3 linked regions of the Homo sapiens genome follow. The protein of the gene in region 3 purifies or fractionates together with the protein of the main gene of each other region. This does not show direct contact. Each region holds a gene or a part of one and is shown on either strand. Other genes may lie near its edges. The genes, in order: PYGB, ABCB9 and HSD17B3.

The links.
Region 1: the proteins of HSD17B3 (region 3) and PYGB purify together in Homo sapiens (affinity purification with mass spectrometry, with the first as the bait; one large-scale study listed by BioGRID). This does not show direct contact.
Region 2: the proteins of HSD17B3 (region 3) and ABCB9 purify together in Homo sapiens (affinity purification with mass spectrometry; one large-scale study listed by BioGRID and IntAct). This does not show direct contact.

The regions. Positions count from the first base shown.
Region 1 is NC_000020.11:25,292,936-25,295,801, reverse strand, and holds part of PYGB (glycogen phosphorylase, brain form), read right to left. Parts: intron 1,645-2,866; coding exon 1,510-1,644; intron 1,060-1,509; exon of another isoform or gene 830-1,059; coding exon of another isoform or gene 772-829; intron 199-771; coding exon 132-198; intron 1-131. UniProt on the Homo sapiens protein: Glycogen phosphorylase that regulates glycogen mobilization. Phosphorylase is an important allosteric enzyme in carbohydrate metabolism. Enzymes from different sources differ in their regulatory mechanisms and in their natural substrates.
Region 2 is NC_000012.12:122,942,333-122,945,984, forward strand, and holds part of ABCB9 (ABC-type oligopeptide transporter ABCB9), read right to left. Parts: intron 2,188-3,652; coding exon 2,059-2,187; intron 1-2,058. UniProt on the Homo sapiens protein: ATP-dependent low-affinity peptide transporter which translocates a broad spectrum of peptides from the cytosol to the lysosomal lumen for degradation.
Region 3 is NC_000009.12:96,295,664-96,299,315, reverse strand, and holds part of HSD17B3 (17-beta-hydroxysteroid dehydrogenase type 3), read left to right. Parts: intron 1-853; coding exon 854-900; intron 901-3,652. UniProt on the Homo sapiens protein: Catalyzes the conversion of 17-oxosteroids to 17beta-hydroxysteroids. Favors the reduction of androstenedione to testosterone. Testosterone is the key androgen driving male development and function. Uses NADPH while the two other EDH17B enzymes use NADH.

The sequences.
Region 1 (2,866 bases), on a different chromosome or scaffold from region 3:
CAGATCAGAATCACAAACCCCTCTGGCCCAGGCCAAGAATCTACTCAGCTTGGGAAATAAACAATCTGACCCAACACGTCTACATGGACCCACCCAGCTGCTCCCCTAGCCTCTGGACCCAGGAGCCTCACCCGGTACAGCTGGTCCACCTGTGCCTGGCACTGCATGTAGGCTTCATAGTCTGCAAACACCTTGAACCTGGAATGGGAGAAAGGAGGCTGGGCCAGGGCAGCAGGGAGCCCTGCCCACACTGTCCCGAGGGGAGAGTCCCAGGGCAGGAGGCCAGGCACCATCCACCTGGTCCTGTCTGGAGCGAAGGGGCCCACCCACGCAGCTGGTCAGAGCCAGGCTGCACCAGGCCCATTTGGCCACAGGGCTTCTCTGTGAGCAACACTTATGTCCTGGGACAATATTTTAGAAAAACCTTATTTCAACCCAACACTCCTTTAAATAAACTGGCATTTAAAACGTGTCTTCCACACGCAGGGCAGTTAGAGCTGCACATGGGAGAGGCCTCCTGGGCAGACAGTGGAGAGCCCATGGCGCCGCCTCAGGGCAGGGGGCACTTGCTGGGGAACGGCATCTCCATTTGCCGTCTTAAGTCTAACTGGGATTTGCCTACACAGGAAATACTGACTTGCAGTTCCTGATGTGCTGAACAAAAATGCCAGATTTATGAATCTACAAATGCATTTCTGTTCACTATCGAGTCAGAAGCACACTTCACGAAATGCAGAGTTCACAATTTTAAAAGCACTTCCTTTATCACAGACCTCAGCAGGGCCCAGGTTCCAGCCCAGATCCCAGCATGTGGTCAGAGCTGGTGTGACTGAAGCCAACAGGTGACACGGTCATCGAAGAGCAGCAGACAAAACTAAAACTAACCCAAAGGCAGCTGAAAGTGGAGGGCAGGTGAATTCCCAGCCCTCGCCGGATTCAACTTTTGCCAACGGTGAAGAACTGCCCTGAGCTGCAAACCTTACAAAGTCTGTAACTCTAGATAAACCATACCATGTGCTAACTGCACTGAAATAAAACACTAACTACATTATAATGTCACATCGTTGCAAGTGAAATCCATTTTCACCACTGCCTGTCACTGGCACTGACGCCTGCCGCGGTTCCGCAGCCCTTGTGCGCCCCCTACCCCACCCCAGGGAGTTTTGGGCCCATGCTCCCTCTACTGGCCTGCTGGGACACGGCTGCCCCTGGGACCTCCAACCAGCAGAGGACACCCCCTCCTGCTCAGCACATTGGTCCACAAGGCCTGGGGGCTGGACTGTGCTGCTGTGTCTCGCTGCCCAGGGCCCCCTGGCATTGCCAGAGGCCATCGCAAACTCCCAGCTGGGGTCTAAGGCTCTGCCCAGTAAGGTCTCATGGGCACAGTGGAGAAGACGTCCTGAAAGCACGGGTTTTGCTCTCCAAACAAGGTGGAATATCCAACCCACGAAGAGGACCCCTCCCTCCCTCCCTCCCTCCCAGCCACCCAACCAGGGAAGTCGGTCCCACCTGTCATGGTGCATCAGCATGTTCACGATGTCCTTGAAGCAGTCTGGCTCCTTGGGAGAAAAAAAGCCACTGCTGATCTGGTCCACGGCCTGCTTCAGCTCGGGCAGGTGGTCGTAGTACTCCCTGGCATTGTACCTGTGAGGCGATGGGCCAGGAGTCAGCAGCCAGCGCCCCAGGTGGGCCACCTTGGAGAACAAGCCATGTTGGTGCCTGGCACAGCCCCTGCCCCAGGATGGCCCTGGGAGCTCAAGGCCTGCACGGTCCAGGGCAGCAGCCAGTGGCCATGGGTGGTTACGAGGCCCTTGAGCAGGGACCTGCTCGAGCAGAGATGTGAAGTCAGTCTAAAGCCAATCCCACCTGCTCCTTTGACTGTTAAAGAAATGTCATCACTAGCAGATCTGCTAGGACATAGTGGCTGATGCCACATTCCTAGTGGAGAGGGCCACTCAGAACTTGGCTCACTGTGAAATCCTGGGCAGAGCTTTTGAAAAACAGACGGCCGGAGGGGCAGGAAGTGAAATGGAGCACCTTGGCTGGGACCTCGAAGATGGAAAAGGAAAAACGCAAGCAAGACCAGACAGGACAAGGCAGAGCTAAGTGGGAGAGGGACGGACGGGCAGACATGGGCATCCCAGGACGGGGCCCGGGCAGAAGAAGCTGTGTGAGGGCGCAGAAAGGGAGCACAGGCCTCTGTGCTCGGGCCAGCAAGGCACAGCTCTGACTTCAGATGGCATGTGTGGTTTCACCTGACCCTACTTAAGGCCTCACAGGCTCCCCAGTGCTTCAAGGCAATCAGGCAACACTGCCTTTTCTTTGTAATTATCGCTTGGAATCAGGCCCGTGCTGGATTCCTCATGACGTCCAGATCATGAAGAACAAGGAAAAACTGAGAAGCTGTCACAGACCAAATGACACTGGGGAGACCTGACGGCCACACACAGTGGAGTGCCCTGATGGGATCCTGGGATGGGAAAGACAGTAACAGAACCCCGGTGGAGTTGGAATGGAGTGTGGGCTGCAGGAGGGCCAGTGCTCTGAGCTCAGTGCAGCCAACGGAGGGGCGCGGGGATAAGGTGGATGAAGCTCTGGGTGCTGTCTTCAGGATTCCCTCCTCCCCTCTGCCACCCCCCAACCCCCCCATCCCCCCCACTCCCCCACCCCCCCCGACCCTGGCCTACACATTTAAAATGTTTCCAAAATACTATTTTTAAACAATTTTAACAGTTACAACTTAGACCAGGGAACCTCAACAGCAGGCAAGCCCCAAATCAGCAGAGTGCTCCCGGCAGAGCGCCCCTGGCAGTGGGGTCCTGCCCAGCCCCAGCCCATTTCTGTGGGGCTGCCTGTGCCCAGGGGG
Region 2 (3,652 bases), on a different chromosome or scaffold from region 3:
ATCCCAGCACTTTGGGAGGCGGAGGCAGGCGGATCATTTGAGGTCAGAAGTTCGAGATCAGCCTGGCCAACATGGTGCAACCCCATTTCTACTGAAAATACAATTTTGTACTAAATTTTGTACTAAAAGTACAAAAATTAGCTGGGCATGGTGGTGCATGCCTGTAGTCCCAGCTACTGGGGAGGATGAGGCAGGAGAATAGCTTGAACCCGGGAGGCAGGGGTTGCGGTGAGCCAAGATTGCACCACTGTACTCCAGCCTGGGCGACAGAGCAAGACTCCATCTCAAAAAAAAAAAAAAAAAAAACCTAAAAAGAAAAACATTAGCTGGGTGTGGTGGCATGTGACTGTAACCCCAGCTACTCAAGTGGCTAAGGTGGGAAGATCACTTGAGTCCAGGAGGTCAAGGCTGCAGTGAGTCATGAAAGCACCACTGCACCCCAGCCTGGGTGACAATGTGAGACTGTCTCAAATAGTAATGATAATAAATAAACAACACTGCACTGAACATCTCTGGACATACATCTTCGCCCACTGCTGTGAGTACTCTTGAAGCATGGATTCCTAGGGGCAGATTTACTGCTGAGTCAAATAATATGGCAGGTGTGATTCTCCAGCAGATGCAATGGCCTGAGTAGCAGATGCTAGGAACACCCCACCAACATCCTTGAGCCTTTGTCAGCGCAGCACACAAAGGCCCAATCTCTTACTGCCTGCGGGCTGCGGGCTTTTTTGTGGGAGCGAGGCAGACAAGAGAATTAACACCCTCACTCCAGGCTGACCTTGAGCAATGGCTGATGGCAGCTTGGGTGTAAACACCCCAGCTCCCTGGCCCTCAGATGGGATGACTCTGGTGCTGGTGTCCTACCCTGTCCGCTAGAAGGATCCCACCTCAGTTGCCCACACTGGTAACTGGCTCCACAACTCACTCTGCTGACTTCCTTCCTTCCACGTCTCACTTTCCACTCCCACCCCCGTTTCCTGAGATCACCTCCCAAACAAATCCGTTGCACGCCAATTCTGTCTCAGGATCTGCTTGTGCGGAAACCAAAATCAAGACAATCTAAAACACCCTTGCATTTCCGAGGCACTACGCTGGAAGTAGGCTGGGAGGAAGTCAGGCCCGGCTGGCCCTGAGCCCCGTTCCCGAGCAAATGTGATGGACGAGTCACTCCACCGCTCAGGTTCAGTTTTCTTTTCATCACTTCAATTTCTCACAGAGCTGTTAAGACCATTTTCTGAAATCACCTCTGTCCCTAAAGGGTGTTGCTGTCACTTGTTGGTAGTATTATCATTCTTTCTTTCTTTTTTTTTTGAGATGGAGTTTCGCTTTGGTTGCCCAGGCTGGAGTGCAGTGGCGCGATCTTGGCTCACTGTAACCTCTGCCTCCCGGGTTCAAGCGATTCTCCTGCCTCGGCCTCCTGAGGTGTGAGCCACCGCACCTGGCCCTTTCTTTCTTTTTGAGACACGGTCTCTCTCTGTCGTCCAGCCTGGAGTGCAGTGGCGTGATCACGGCTCACTGCGGCCTTGACCTCCCAGGCTCAAGCGATTCTCTAGCCTCAGCCTCCTGAGGACCTGGGATTACAGGCACATGCCACCATACTCGGCTTGCCTATTTATTTATCAAGACGGAGTCTCGCTCTGTCACCCAGGCTGGAGTACAGTGGTGCGATCTCAGCTCACTGCAACCTCTGCCTCCAGGGTTCAAGCAATTCTCCTCTCAAGTAGCTGGGATTACAGGTACCCACCAACACGCTTGGCTAATTTTTGTGTTTTCAGTAGAGATGGGGTTTCACCATGTTGGCCAGGCTGGTCTCGAACTCCTGACCTCAAGTGATCCACCCGCCTCCGCCTCCCAAAGTTCTGGGATTATAGGCGTGAGCCACCACGCCCTGCCTAGTATTATCATTCTTGATATGATCATGCTGTCTCCCCTACTTACCTTAGAGAGAAATACCACATTGTCAGAGTCCCTGGAGCCCCGCCCCCACCCTGTTAAGATCCCTCTTCCCCAAACTCCTCCCTTCTCTCTGGATCCCCGGACACACTGGCCTCTCACCTCCATACAATCTCCCAGGACAAACTCGTAGATGATGAAGGCGATGAGGTTGCCGCTGGTCATCTGGCCTGAGATGACAAGGTGGCCCCCGTAGTAGAGGATGCTGACCTGGACCACCAGCAGTGTGAGCTGGGGCAGAGGGAGAGGGGATGTGGGTCGAGGGGACCTTAGATCCCCCACCATCCCCATTCCCTGACCCATCCCAGGCTGCAGGGGGAGGTGAGGGCAGACCCAGCCACAAACTGAAATGCCGGCCGTTGGCAGGGGTGTCTTCCAAGGCTTGTCACTCATGCCTTCCCCTGCCCCGAGCATTTCCCTACAGAGGCCTCCAGCTGGAGCAGGCTGTGGGCTTGGCCACAGAACAAGGCTTTCTTTGTGAGGTCCTGGCACACACATGCCACCCCCAGGCTCCTCAGCTTGGCCACCTGGGAACTATTCGTCCTCCTCATGGGGAAGAGCATGACTCAGAGAGGGCAAGTGCCCTGGCTAAGGTCACACAGTGAGCTCTCTGTCTCCTCCCCCAGTGGGGTTCCGTGAAGAAGGGGCTGTGATGGGAGCGCCCATGCCTTCCTCCTGTGCCTGGGGGGCATCTGGGAAGGGAGTGGAGTCTGAGTACCCATGGCAGCCCACACCCTAGTCAGGGACTCCATCTGTCCTCCTCATGCCCAGCCAGAACTAGGCTGCTGTCTGGACCACCGTGCCTTGGTGGAAGCTGCAAAGGCACCCCCTGCCAGCAGACGGATTGCTAAGAGGCTCAGCTAGCTGAGCTGGACCTTAGCCCCTCCTCTCCTCCTTGGCTGATACTTTTGGGAGGTGGCAGCACCAGGAAGTCCCAGATATCCTCTTTCCCCTGGCTCCCCTGTAGACCACCAGCTCCCTCCTCCCTCTCACTCCAAACCCTCCTCATTCCTCCGCAGCTATGCCCTGACCTGCCCACCTCCCATGTGTGTCCAGTGTAGCAGTGACATGATCCAAGTGCTCCCCATCCTCCAAGGAGAGGCTGTGACGCACTCCCGGGAGTGTGCCAGACACTGTCGGGAGTGTGTGTGGCTGTGACATGAGACCTGCCCGAAAGTGGCCTAGGGACCTGCTGACTCCCCACCTCAGCAAGGATGTTTCCCCAGCTGGGAAAAGAAAGCTCCCACCCTGCCACCCCACGTCAGGTGACTGGGAGAGGGGCAGCCTTGCTTCTGGGAAAGATTCTCAGCAGGGCGCGGTGGCTCACGCCTGTAATCCCAGCACTTTGGGAGGCTGATGCGGGTGGATCACCTGAGCTCAGGAGTTCGAGACCAGCCTGGCCAAGATAGTGAAACCCCGTCTCTACCAAAAATACAAAAATTAGCCAGGCATGGTGGCGGGCGCCTGTGGTCCCAGCTATGCAGGAGGCTGAGGCAGGAGAATCGCTTGAACCCAGGAGGCGGAGGTTGCAGTGAGCTGAGATGGTGCCACTGCACTCCAGCCTGGGTGACAGAGTGAGGCTCTGTCTCAAAAAAAAAAAAAAAAAAAAAGAAAGACAGACAGATTCTCCACCAGCTTGACACCAACATGCAGGACTGATGTCCTAGATCGAGGGCTTCCCCCATCTTTGCATCCC
Region 3 (3,652 bases):
GTGAGGCTTGTACAGCTTGGCCTGCACTCACTCTCAGGTGAGCTAAATGTACCTTTTGTTCACACTTTTTGAAAGCATGCCCTTTAATTGTTGTTGCAAGGGTAAATTGTAAGTTTTACGATATACCGAATTGTAGTGAATTTTGAAATTGTGACGTTCTCACGAATGAAGCGTATACTAGAGCTCAATCATTAAATATGTCTGTAATGTTGATATGAAAGGACTAGCAGACCTATTTGACTGTTGTATATTAACAGATAGTTCTATTGAGTACAAATTCTTCAGGTTTCTTCATTTCACTGCATTTTCTTTTTGCATTTTGGTATTTTCCTCTTTGCTAAATTCCCTACCTTCCATAGGCCTTTAATTGCTGCTGTGGGGTGGGGGTGAGAAGTGGGCAGAGCTCCACTTTTAGAAGGAACCTTGAAATGTCCTTACAATGACAGATGGGTGCCTGGGCAGAGAGATAATGGGGAACACTGCCTGCCCTTGTGGGGTGAAGGCTCACAATATCTGCATCCTCATGGGGCCTGCAGGAAATGTTCCCTGGCTGCGGATCTGTTTCATTTTGGAACATGTTTTCCACAGTCTCGCCAATCCCTCCAAAACACCAACTAACCAACCAACCAACCAACCAACAAACCAACCAACCAACCAACCCACCCACCAACCAAACAATCCTTTCACCTGAATGTTTAGTGAGGGGCTTCAAGGGCGTGGGCTGGAGAGCAAAGGGATGAACCTTTGGAGTACTGACTGCCCTGGAGACTAGGCTTGTGAGAAAACGTGGCCAGTGAGAAAGAGAAGTTTAAAGATGAATTCTGTCTTTTAAAAGCATTCTTGCTTTTCACAGTGATCACTGGAGCAGGCGATGGAATTGGGAAAGCGTACTCGTTCGAGGTAAGCTATCTTCCTGGGGACTTTCTCCTCCCTTGTATTGAACAATCACAGTCCTGAGACATCCACCCCAACACTAGATTTTTGAATATAAAAGCAGTATGCATTCATTTAAAGGAGAAAATATACTCTATGGAAAAGCAAACAAAAATAATAATCTCACTCCCTGGATCTCTTTTTTTAAACACAATGATATTCAAAGGTGACAGTACCTTGCCTTAGGGATTGTTTTGGGAATTTGTGGGGCATTGGTATTTTCTAGTGTAATTGTGCCATATCAGCTTATATACTTTAATTTTTTCAAAACATTATAAACTACTTTCCTTTTATTTATTATTTACATTAAGCTAGGGCATATATTGATTTTTTAAAAGTCACTTGCTTAGGCAAAACATATTATCAGTGACTTTCATTTCAAGGACATTAATGGCATTATAGCATATTCTATAAAAAGAAGGTCTAATAGAACTGAGAGTCACTAGAATACAATTAGTATTTTTGAGTATTTGCTTCCACGCTTATTTCTCTGTAGATAGATAGATTGATAATTATACTTTAAAAAATGCATTTATAACATATGTGGTTTTATATGCTATTATAATTATAAATTTCACATTTTTATTAATGAAACATTGTTTCCTGGAATTCCTATGTATTTTATTTCTTCCTTATGCCTATTACACTGATGTCTAGAACCATGTCAAATACAATAGAAGAATAGAAAGAATTCTAGAAACTGTAAGAGGAAAGCTGTTTAAAAATCAATAACACCAGCTGGGCACGGTGGCTCACTCCTGTAATCCCAGCACTTTGGGAGGCCGAGGCAGGTGGATCACCTGAGGTCAGGAGTTCGAGACCAGCCTGGCCAACATGGTGAAACCTCATCTCTACTTAAAATACAAAAATTAGCAGGGTGTGTTGGCAGGTGCCTGTAATCCCAGCTACTTGGGAGGCTGAGGCAGGAGAATCTCTTGAACCTGGGAGGCAGAGGTTGCAGTGAGCTGAGATCGCACCATTGCACGCCAGCCTGGGCAATAGAGCAAGACTTTGTCTCCAAAAAAAAAAAAAAAAAAAAAAGAAATCAATAACACCTTAAAAATATAATGAAAAGCTTTTCCATTTGCAATAGAAAAATAAGTAATCCTAGAAATACAGTTAACATAAAATTTGTAGGTCTTTTTCAAGAAAACTGTAAAATTCCATTGAGAAATATGAGATATTCCAAATAAGAGAAAAAAATACCACATTCTTGAAGAGAAAGATATTTGAAACCTAACAGTTTCTCCTAAATTTATCTCAAATCCCAGATTATACATACCATTATTTTTTAAATGTTACATTAGTTGTGAGCATTTTCTTATGTCAAAACTGTGGGTTTTTTTTTTTTTGAGACACTTGCTCTGTTGCCCAGGCTGGAATGCAGTGGTACAAACACTGCTTACTGCAGCCTTGACCTCCTGGGCTCAAGCAATCCTCCCACCTCAGCCTCCCGAAGCAATGTGTCCTCCTGGAACTACAGGCTCATGTATTTTTTGTAGAGACAGGGTTTCACTGTTCCTCTGTTGTCCAGGCTGGTCTTGAACTCCTGAGCTCAAGTTATCTGCCTGCTTTGGCCTCCCATAGTGCTGGGATTACAGGCATGAACCACTGCAGCCTGCCGAAAACCCTGATTTTTAAATGGCAACATAATATTCCATCAAATGGATGGTCCATAATTTAACCATTTTCTTGGTAAAAATTTTAATTTTTTTCTGAATTTTTCTTCATTTTATATAAAATTGGGAGTAAATACAGAAACTTTTCTGCTTATATCCAATTATTTTGGGAGCTATTTTCTTGAGGTGGTCTTGCTGGGTTAGAGGTTGTGAATATATGTAAGGTTCCAGTGCTTTCCACTATGTTATAGTAATTACACCCATTTCTGAGACAGATGTGGTCTTCATCAGCTTCAGCTGCAGAATGAATTCCATAAGCTGAGTGGCCTAAGCAAGCATGTATTTCTTAGGGTTCTGGAGGCTGGGAAGTCCAAGAGCGAGGTGCCAGCAGATCTGATGTCTGGCAAGGGCTCTCTTCTTGGTTTGCAGACAATTGTCTTCTTGATGTAGCTTCACACGGCAGAGAGCAGAGAGAGGGGAAGCAAACTCTCTGATGTTTCTTCTTCTTTTACTTTTTGGAGACAGGTTCTTGCTCTGTTGCTCAGGCTGGAGTGCAGTGGTGCAAACAGCTCACTGCAGCCTCAACCTCCTGGGCTCAAGTGATACTCCCACTCAGCCTCCTGAGTATCAGGGACTACGGGCGTGTGCCATCACGCCTGGCTAATTTTTAAATTTTTTGTACTGACAGGGTTTCACCATGTTGCCCAGGCTGGTCTTGAACTCCTGGGCTCAAGTGATCTGCCTGCCTCGGCCTCCCAAAGTACTGGGATTACAGACATGAGCCACCATGCCTGGCCTGGTGTTTCTTCCCATAAGGACATTAATCTCATCGTGAAGGCCCCACTCTCATGACCTGATTACCTCCTGAAAGCCTTACCTCCAAGTGTCATCTCATTGGGGGTTAGGATTTCAGCATATGAATTTTGGGGGGGCCACAAAACATTCGGTTCATATGAAAAATGCATTCAACTACAGTACAGTACCCATGCCTTTTCTTGTCCCAGACGGCTTGCATCATAACAAAGCCATCTTATGTGAAACAGCAGTGCAAGGCATCTGGGACGCACTTGCTAGAAACTTGGCGTATGTTAACAAACCTC